3 linked regions of the Homo sapiens genome follow. The protein of the gene in region 3 purifies or fractionates together with the protein of the main gene of each other region. This does not show direct contact. Each region holds a gene or a part of one and is shown on either strand. Other genes may lie near its edges. The genes, in order: MOXD1, TACC1 and ACACB.

What was found.
Region 1: the proteins of ACACB (region 3) and MOXD1 purify together in Homo sapiens (co-immunoprecipitation; one large-scale study listed by IntAct). This does not show direct contact.
Region 2: the proteins of ACACB (region 3) and TACC1 purify together in Homo sapiens (affinity purification with mass spectrometry; one large-scale study listed by BioGRID and IntAct). This does not show direct contact.

The regions. Positions count from the first base shown.
Region 1 is NC_000006.12:132,295,428-132,298,045, reverse strand, and holds the end of MOXD1 (DBH-like monooxygenase protein 1 precursor), read left to right. Parts: intron 1-90; coding exon 91-259; intron 260-728; coding exon 729-893; 3' UTR 894-1,991; downstream 1,992-2,618.
Region 2 is NC_000008.11:38,821,607-38,825,263, reverse strand, and holds part of TACC1 (transforming acidic coiled-coil-containing protein 1), read right to left. Parts: intron 1,275-3,657; coding exon of another isoform or gene 1,239-1,274; intron 1-1,238. UniProt on the Homo sapiens protein: Involved in transcription regulation induced by nuclear receptors, including in T3 thyroid hormone and all-trans retinoic acid pathways. Might promote the nuclear localization of the receptors.
Region 3 is NC_000012.12:109,259,530-109,263,186, forward strand, and holds part of ACACB (acetyl-CoA carboxylase 2), read left to right. Parts: intron 1-535; coding exon of another isoform or gene 536-620; intron 621-950; coding exon 951-1,128; intron 1,129-2,827; coding exon 2,828-2,940; intron 2,941-3,657. UniProt on the Homo sapiens protein: Mitochondrial enzyme that catalyzes the carboxylation of acetyl-CoA to malonyl-CoA and plays a central role in fatty acid metabolism.

The sequences.
Region 1 (2,618 bases), on a different chromosome or scaffold from region 3:
AGTGTGAGATCTATTTTAGGATGCTGAAAAGTAAAGGAAACATGTAATGCATTTGTTCTGAATATGACTAACTGTGTCTTTTAAATTCAGGACCTGGCCTTTCATTATCAAAAGTCCCAAGCAATATAAAAACCTTTCTTTCATGGATGCTATGAATAAGTTTAAATGGACTAAAAAGGAAGGTCTCTCCTTCAACAAGCTGGTCCTCAGCCTGCCAGTGAATGTGAGATGTTCCAAGACAGACAATGCTGAGTGGTCGGTAAGCTCTTTTTAACCTCTGACAACCCAGATGACACATTTTATCTGAATCTATTACAGGAAAACCTAAGGAGAAGACAAATATCCATAAATCCAGGGGTCCAGTTGCCTTCTAATGTCTGATAATTTTTGTTCAATGATTACTTGGATTGACTGAAAACTCCTCATTCTACCCCCTTTCAAGAGAAAAATTAGTTCTAAAACTAAGGTTGGGATAGAGCAGGAACAGGCCGGAATGAGTGCTGCAAAAAGCAATAGAGCCTGCTTTGTATTCTTTTCCAAAGGAGTGCCTGGCCCTCTTTTCTGTTTCCTCCTTAACCCTAGGTTTCTGACTCCCCCAGTGTGTGACTCCTTTGGTAACCACTCCTGCCCCCTTTATCCCCTGCAGAAGTGTGGGCAGCTGAGCGGCCTGGTCACTGTGCTGCCTTAAATCAGATGTTCATTTGCATTGTTTGTGCTTCCATTTTCAGATTCAAGGAATGACAGCATTACCTCCAGATATAGAAAGACCCTATAAAGCAGAACCTTTGGTGTGTGGCACGTCTTCTTCCTCTTCCCTGCACAGAGATTTCTCCATCAACTTGCTTGTTTGCCTTCTGCTACTCAGCTGCACGCTGAGCACCAAGAGCTTGTGATCAAAATTCTGTTGGACTTGACAATGTTTTCTATGATCTGAACCTGTCATTTGAAGTACAGGTTAAAGACTGTGTCCACTTTGGGCATGAAGAGTGTGGAGACTTTTCTTCCCCATTTTCCCTCCCTCCTTTTTCCTTTCCATGTTACATGAGAGACATCAATCAGGTTCTCTTCTCTTTCTTAGAAATATCTGATGTTATATATACATGGTCAATAAAATAAAACTGGCCTGACTTAAGATAACCATTTTAAAAAATTGGGCTGTCATGTGGGAATAAAAGAATTCTTTCTTTCCTACTACATTCTGTTTTATTTAAATACTCATTGTTGCTATTTCACTTTTTGACTTGACTTTTATATTTCTTTAAAAAATTCCTTCCTTTTAAAAAATATAAAAGGGACTACTGTTCATTCCAGTTTTCTTCTTCTTTGTTGTTCTTCTAGTGTGACTTTTCAAGTGTAACAGCCATTCTTCCTGACTTTAATATTGTCCAGTTCTGGTCTTTTCTGTGAATTACCACTGGGCCCCTTACCTCAATGCTTTTTGTTGATGCCCACTCTGGTTCCCTTGTTTATCTGAGTCTGTTGGTACCCCAAATGACCCCACACCCATCTTAAAGTACTTTTTTTCACCTTCCCTGTTTAGTACTGGCCAGATGAGTTTTTTCTAGAGCTCTGTCACTATCTGAAAAGAAAGAGGCTATGGGAAACATAGAAATGGTATGTATTAATAACTGATCATAGGCTGAGGAGAAAAAATGTAGCTGGCTGCAAACCCAGTGCTGTGAGGTGACTTATATGAGGTTCCAGATCAAAGACAGGCCGTGTGAGCCAGTCCAGGAGGGTGTAAGTTCTGAATGGTTCCTTGCTGACTTTGGGTGACACATGTACCACATACTGGCTCAGTTTAAGTCATGGTTCTATTGTAGATTTATTTTTATATTAGTTAATAAATGACTTTAAATTGTCACCAATTGAAAATCTTGTCACTCTTTTGGTTTTCTTTATATAGCTCAGCCAAATCTTGTTTTATGTCCTGTCCTCATCTCTTAAGCTAAATCTGTTTGGATCATATTAATAAACTAAATGAAATTACACTTTTGTGTGGTATTTTATACATTGTTTAAGAAAAGTAAGTGATTCAGTACTAGTATTAACAGTAAAAGTCAATTCAGAATGTTGCATTTTCCATTCCATTTTGAAGCCCTTTTTGCCCCATAATGTCTTCAACACAAAACGTATTGCCTTTTAAATAAATATGTTTCAGAGTATTTCCTTCTTGATTCTTAGAACTTGTACATTTGATGAAATGTTTTTAATATTTTTGAGGCATATTTTTGAGTTTACTTTCTTTTTATTTTATAAGTGCTATTTCACATTCTATGATTTTCCATTCAAATATTTATATGAGAAATATAATTCCAAATGCTCCCTATTTGAAATTTTATGTTGATTTTTACTTCAGAATTTCTGAATTTGAGGTATCAAAGTCAAATGATTTCCTCCTGAGATTCTGTAATATTATATTTGTTCTTACCAAGAACAAATATTCTGTAATATTATATTTGTTCTTGGTAAGGAAGGTGAACATACCAGCTAGACGAGGGTAAACAGCTTTGGAAGCTTAATTTATGGAGCCAGGCCAGGGAATCTCTTCCATTGATGTTACTAAGAAGAAAGTTGACATTATTCTTCTGGAAATTCTCATGAATATATGTGATTTC
Region 2 (3,657 bases), on a different chromosome or scaffold from region 3:
GACAATTGTCAAGGTATGAAATGGAGCAGACAGCAGTGTGTGCGGATAGAAGCCAAAGCATACAGCACCACACAAATCATACATCGCCGCAGGAGAGAGGCAGGGACACCTTTTATGCCTCTGAGTTTTCTCCAGAGAGACGGGGTAAGCAAAGACCTACAAGCGGGGCTCATTCTCTGAAAAGACCCCCTCAGCTTGCTTCTATGAGTTGTCAAACAGTAGCACTCTGATGTCTATGGTTTTTAATTACACGCCACCAAAAGCTTTGCAGACAGTAGAGCCTTAGCAGCTGGAGACATTCAGTTCCTCTGAGCCTCACTCGCTTGGCTTTGACATTCATTAGAAAAATCATCACGCTGGACCAAATTCTTTAAAAATTCTTTATTGCACTAAAAGCCATAGACGTCTCATAAAACAGTTCCAGTTAGACTTGTGTGCTCACAGAGAAGAACTGTCATCAATAAAAAGTATAAAAGTAAAAATATGTGAGTAAACTGTTACCATTCCTATTAAGTAGTAAGATGGAAGATGAATGTCACACGCTGCACAAAGCCTGAAACTGGGGAAGCTTGAACCATCTGTTATTTGTAGATTAGCACACAACTTGTGATCACAGGACTAATTCAGATTCTGTTCTAATAAACTTAGAATTTCCAGGAAAAACACCACTGTGACCAAAAAAAGAGAAAAAATTATTTGCAACTTTTTTTCTTTTGTGAGAAAAAATACAAAGACAAGCACATAAGTTACCGGAATGTGCATAATCACTAGTTCATGATCTTCTTTCCCTAATCTTCTTACTGAGTGCTACCCTCTGCCACCAAACTCAAGTTGAGCTGACTCAGTAAAATTTATTAACTGTTCCAAGCCAGTAGCTTTATGCTACCAAAAAAGCCAATGATTTCCAATATTAAATAGCAGAACAGTCCCTCAAACCACTGCTGTGATGATCTTGGGGCCAAGCCAGCTTTTGGTATTGTCAAAGCGCCACGTGACACCTGCCAAGCCAGGGAGTGCAAGCTCTAGCACCTAAGGTGTAAAGGCCAAGCCCCACTCCCTTAGGTATGGACAACTGCAAGGCTAAGCTGACTCATGAAGTGACTGATGAAATGCAAAAAAATCATCAGAAGATCAAACTCAGAATTAGAAGCAAACATGCTATGGAGAGATGGCTGGGGGAGGGGAGAGAGGAAACTGCCAACGGTCCCAGGGACTAAAGAAACAGCAGGAGTACTTACAACAGAAAACAGAGAAATTTCACTTGTTCAGTAGTCCTGATGCACCAACAAAATTAGAGACAGGAAAGAGACAGACAGATGGAGAAAAAAATCATGTAAAGACTGGAATATTCAACTCTAGTCTGGCAGATGTAAAAGCTGCACAATTCTTTCTATGAGGTGAGATACAAATTAAAAATGTCGTATTCATGAATGTTATCACCAGTGAGTGAATGATGAACAGACCTCAACTACAAAGGAGACTGGTAGAAACACTCAGAAATGCCACAAATTCAAATTTACAGATGAAAAATAAACTTCCAAGAGGTCTAGCACTCCTTTCTTCTAAAAAGAACAAGACGACAAGATTTTTGATTGCATAAGGCCTTAAAAAAAGCCCTATTAAGTGTATTAGATCAAGAAGTTCATTCAACAAAAACAGAATAGGGGAAAAAGGCTACTGGGTGAGGGTGGCAGGACTCGAGAGACGGTGCTTCTTGCTGCCGAATATAAAGTGTAGAATAAATTACCCTTTCTTTGGCCCAGATTTCATCTTATTTAATGCATTGGTTGCATGCAACTCAAAGACTCACAAATGACTCCTTATCAACTTCAGTATGCAGAAGCATCCCACATTTAGGGGAGGAAGTACCTAGGCAGTGACGTGCCCAGTACATACCCTAAGTGCTGTCTAGAGAGGAGTAACCAACCTTAAAAGCCACAAAAGAGGGCACCCAATCAATAATATTTTCCAACAACCATTTAACTGCTTATATATAATCAAAGAACAGATCGAGAGCTACTAATGACATTTCACTCCCCTTAGCCATTCCGGGGCTGCTGAGGAACTGGTTCCTATATCTCTCTACTTTCTTGGTACTGAAGTTGATCCTTCTGCTCTTTAAACCTCTGGGCGTCTTCCTTTCTGCTGTAAGTCACCATGATATCTGGAGTTTTTCTTTAAGTCATAGCAATGCTGAGAAGCATTTCCCCAACTGATCTACAGTGACAAGTACAAACACAGTGCTTCTCATACTCCCATATTTCATCCTGCATCTCATTGGTCCTTCTTTATATCTACATTTTACTCAAACTTTTTAGTAAAATGTGGCCCTTTTTAGGGCCACAAAAGGATATACAGTCAGGTGCCATGTAATGACATTTCAGTCATGCATACGATGGTGGTCCCGTAGGGTTATAATGGAACTGAAAAACTATTGTCTAGTGATGTCCTGACGATCCTGAGTAGGCCTAGGTAATGGGTAGGCCTAGGTAATGTGTGTGTCTGTGTCTTAGTTTTTAACAAAAATTTTAAAAAGTAAACAAATAAATAATTTTACACAAAGAAAACTTATGGAATAGGTATATAAAGAAAATATTTTTGTATAGCTGTACCATGTGTTTGTGTTTTAAGCTAAGTTTTATTACAAGAGTCAAAACTTCTTAAAAAATTTAAAAGTTGATAAAGTAAAAGTTACAGTAAGCTAAACTTAATCTATTATTGAAGGAAAAAAACTTAAATAAATTTAGCATAGCTGAAGTGTACCGTGTTTATAGAAGCTACAGTAGTGTACAGTAATGTCCAAGGCCTTCTCATTCACTCACCACTCACTGACTCACTCAGAGCAACTTCCAGTTCTGCAAGCTCCATTCATGGTAAGGGCCCTATACAGGTGTATTATTTTTTATCTTTTATACTATATTTTTACTGTACCTTTTCTATGCTTAGATATGTTTAGATACACAAATACTTACCATTGTGTTACACTGCCTATAGTAGTTTTTTTTTTTTTTTTTTTTTAAAGACAGGGTCTTGCTCTGCCAGCCAGGCTGGAGTACAATGGCATAATCATGGCTCACAGCAACCTCAACCTCCTGGGCTCAAGCAATCCTCCTGCCTCAACCTCCTGAGTAGCTGGGTCTACAGGCATGCACCACCACTCCCAGCTAATTAAAAAAAATTTTTTTAAGAGACAGGGAATCGGTGTGTGTGGGGGGGTGTCTCACTATGTTGCCCAGGCTGGTCTTGAACTCCTGGCCTCAAGGGATCCTCCCACCTTGGCCTCCCAAAGTGTTGGGATTACAGGTGTAAGCCACCACACCTAGCACCTATTCAGTACAATAATGTGCTGTACAGGGTTGTAGCCTAGGAGTAACAGGCTGTACCATATAGCCTAGGTGTGTAGTAGGTTTCACCACCTAGGTTTGAGTAAGTTCACTTGACGATGTTCACACAACAAAATCACCTAAGGATGCATTTCCCTGTGGCTTACCCTGTGGCTAAGTGATGTATGATTGTATTATCATCTACTCAAGTTTTGTGATAAAGTAATCCTGTAGCAAAGTTAAACTGAAACTTGATATGGAATAGGACCTTAGGTAATTACACTGAAAACACCAAGGACCTTGCAAAAGTCAGATAATTTCCCAGGAGAGATGG
Region 3 (3,657 bases):
TCCAGCCTGGGCAACGGAGTGAGACCCCCATCTCAAAAAAAAAAACAAAAAAACAAAAAAAAAACAATGAGGAACTGAGGGTTGGAGGCAAAGTGTCACTTTCTAGAGGTCACACCATGAGGTGCAGGTCAGGGAGGGGCAGCCCCAGGAGCTGCCGGGTGACCTGGGCAGGCACCTCCCCATTTGGCAAGGTGAGGAGGATGTTTGTCCACCCTTCCCTCTGCAGAAAGCTGCTCTGAGCCTCATGTGACCTTACAATTGTGTGAGGGCTTTTTAAGCCACCAAGCATGTTTTGGGAGAGAGTGGCTGTTGGATCACTGGGGTGTTGAGGACAGAGCTGGATGGGAGGCAGACAGACCTGCTGTGAGTCCTTGTTAACTGGGTGACATCACTGAGCCTCAGTTTCCCTCCTTTGTAAAAGGGGGTTAAGAACAGGACCAACCTCAGAGGGCCGAGGTAAGAGTCTGATGAGCTAATTGCTGACATGCAGTGTGATTGTCAGTGCTGTTATTATTGCATTCTTGTTTTCATGTAGGGTGCCTGGGGACCTGGAGAGATGTGTCTTGGTGGAAGATAAGGGCCATGTTGCCCATGCACATTGGGGAAGGATCAGTGTGACTGTTAGTGAGGGTTTTCTTTGCTGGAAATGGTGGGGCAGGGCAGGGACAGTCATGGGTGAGGGCATTTCAATTCCAGTTGGAAAGAATCCTAGAGATTGGTTTTTCCCTGTGCCTTCACAGATGAGGCCACTGAGGCCCACACTGGGTGAATGACCTGTTCGAGGTCACACAGCCACTTAGAGAGTGATCAGTACTCTCAAATCCCAGCCCAGTGCTCTCCAAGCCTCTCAGCTGGGCTCACTCTCCCAGGACCCCCAGGACAACTAGGGCAGTGGGTTTCATGTGTGGATGAGTGAGGGCCCTGAACTGGGAGGCTGCTTTGCTTTTCAGACATGTATGACCAGGTGCTGAAGTTTGGAGCCTACATCGTGGACGGCCTTAGACAATACAAACAGCCCATCCTGATCTATATCCCGCCCTATGCGGAGCTCCGGGGAGGCTCCTGGGTGGTCATAGATGCCACCATCAACCCGCTGTGCATAGAAATGTATGCAGACAAAGAGAGCAGGTGGGTGTGTTGCCCTTAGCCTGGCTTAGCCTTTTCTTGTTCTCCCAGCCTTGAGAGCCCATGACCTTGGGAGATCATGGAGGGATGCAGTGGCTGGAACCTGTAAGTGGTGGAGAAATGTTGTCTCTTCTTTCATGGTTTCCACTTCCCCTTCCCAAGGAAGTTTGCAATCAAAAAATAAAAAGGAAAGACCAAAAGCACTTGAACTTCCTGGCAGCCAGGATGAAAAGGGAAATATGATGAGCCATTTATCTCTCATTAGACTCTGAGCTATGAGTTCCTATAGGAAATGTTTTATTCAGTTTTATATCCCAGGGTCTAGCACAGTGCCTTACTCTCCTGGTAGGTGGTCAGAAAATACTGGCTAAACAAATGACTGAATGAATACTTGCATGAGAGGATACCGGTTCTTCGCGGGAGAGGTAACCTCCTTGGCACTTTCCTTAGGAGGAATTTATTCCAGAGATTCTTACAGAAAGGATGATGACAATAATGTTCACAGCACAGTGACTGATGACTTTGAAGTGAAAACTACATGCTACACAGGATGTCAAGGCCTCAAGAGTCATTCTACTCCAAATATAGGCACGGCATTCCTGTGTTCACTCCCTCATTCATTTGCTAATTCAATGAATATCCATTGATTACCTCACTGTATGCCAGCCATTCTGGTAGACATTATGATATGGTGGCAAATGGGCCAAGCTTGTCCTGCATTCAGGGCACTTAGACCCTTGTTAGGGACTGCTGAGGTCAGTCCTCCAGGAAGACTCAGGATACTGAGCAGCACTTGAATGGAGTCATTGCTAACTTTTCATGCTGGCCACCAGGAAGCTCAGAGCTACTGATAGCATTCTTCAGGGCTTCTAAGCTGTCAAAAGCAAAAGGGGGCAGGGGGAGAATAAGGGGTAAATAAAAATGTTGGAAATGAGGCCAGGCGTGGTGGCTCACGCCTGTAATCCCAGCATTTTGGGAGGCTAAGGGGGGCAGATCACTTGAGGCCAGGAGTTCAAGACCAGCCTGGCCAACACAGTGAAACCCCGTCTCTACTAAAAATACAAAAATTAGCTGGGCATGGTGGTACACGCCTGTAATCCAAGCTGCTCGGGGGGCTGAGGCAGGAGAATCACTTGAACCCGGGAGGCAGAGATTGTAGTGAACCGAGATAGTGCCACTGCACTCCAGCCTGGGTGACAGAGTGAGACCCTGTCTAAAAAAAAAACAAAAAAAAAAAAAAAGAAAGAAAAGAAAATGTATGTTGGAAATGGGAGGACAGCTCACACAAGACTACACTGGGCTCTCAAGGTGCTTTTGTGAGATTTAAAGCGATCAGAAACAGTGCCCCTCCTCTAGGAGGGCAGAAATTAGCAAAGTTAGAGAGGACTGTGGCTGGAGAGCAGGAGGGTTATGCTGCCATGGAAAAAGTCGTACACTCTTAGACCTGAAAGGGGCCCTCCAGAGTTCAGAAAGCATTATTTTAAACAGTTGGCTCAGTCTTTCCATCTGTGGGTAAAGATACAGAGGCCCAGAGAGGGAAAGTGACTTGTCTAAGGGCACACAGCATGTGTGGGGGTAAAAGAGCTGAGGACTGACACCCAGATCTTCTGGCTCTCTTCCCTCCAGCTCCCCCCACATCCATTAGCCCTTGCTTGCTGGGCAATGCCTCATATACCCCCATCCCTGCCTCTTCTCTTTTAAGGGGTGGTGTTCTGGAACCAGAGGGGACAGTGGAGATTAAGTTCCGAAAGAAAGATCTGATAAAGTCCATGAGAAGGATCGATCCAGCTTACAAGAAGCTCATGGAACAGCTAGGTAAGGGGGTCCCAAAGGCTTCACCTCTCAGAGGTCAAGAGAGGCCCAGCTGGCCCACTGCTGGGGGTTTCTAGGATGTTAAAAATAAAATGAAAAAATACCAAAATACAGCTATAATAACTGTGAGATTTTTAAAGATATTCACATTTGTCTGTTTGTTTTGTTTTGTTTTTTTGAGGTCTGGCTCTATTGCCTAGGCTGGAGTGCAGGGTGCAATCTCAGCTCACTGCAACCTCTGCCTCCCAGGCATAAGCCATCCTCCCATCTCAGCCTGAGTAGCTGGGACTACAAGTACGCAACACCATGCCTAGCTAATTTTTGTATTTTTGTAGATGTGGGGTTTCGCCATGTTGCCCAGGCTGTTCTCAAACTCCTGGGCTCAAGCAATCCACCTACCTCAGCCTCCCAAAATGCTGGGGTTACAGGCATGAGCTACCATGATTGGAGGACATTCACATTTCTAAATCAACCTTTTTAACATTATATATATATATATATATATATATATATATATTGCCATCGTGAATTTATTTCTCAGCATACACAAAAGATAGCAATTGAAGTATTTGGGGCTGATGGGGATTATCAGAATTTTGGTGGCAAAATGTTCCTTTAGAATTCCCAATCAGAGATAAGATATTTTACTAATTTTGTTTGAATGACAGCTTTGTTTTACTTGTCATCTTTAGATGTAATTATCTTTATTTATTTATTTGT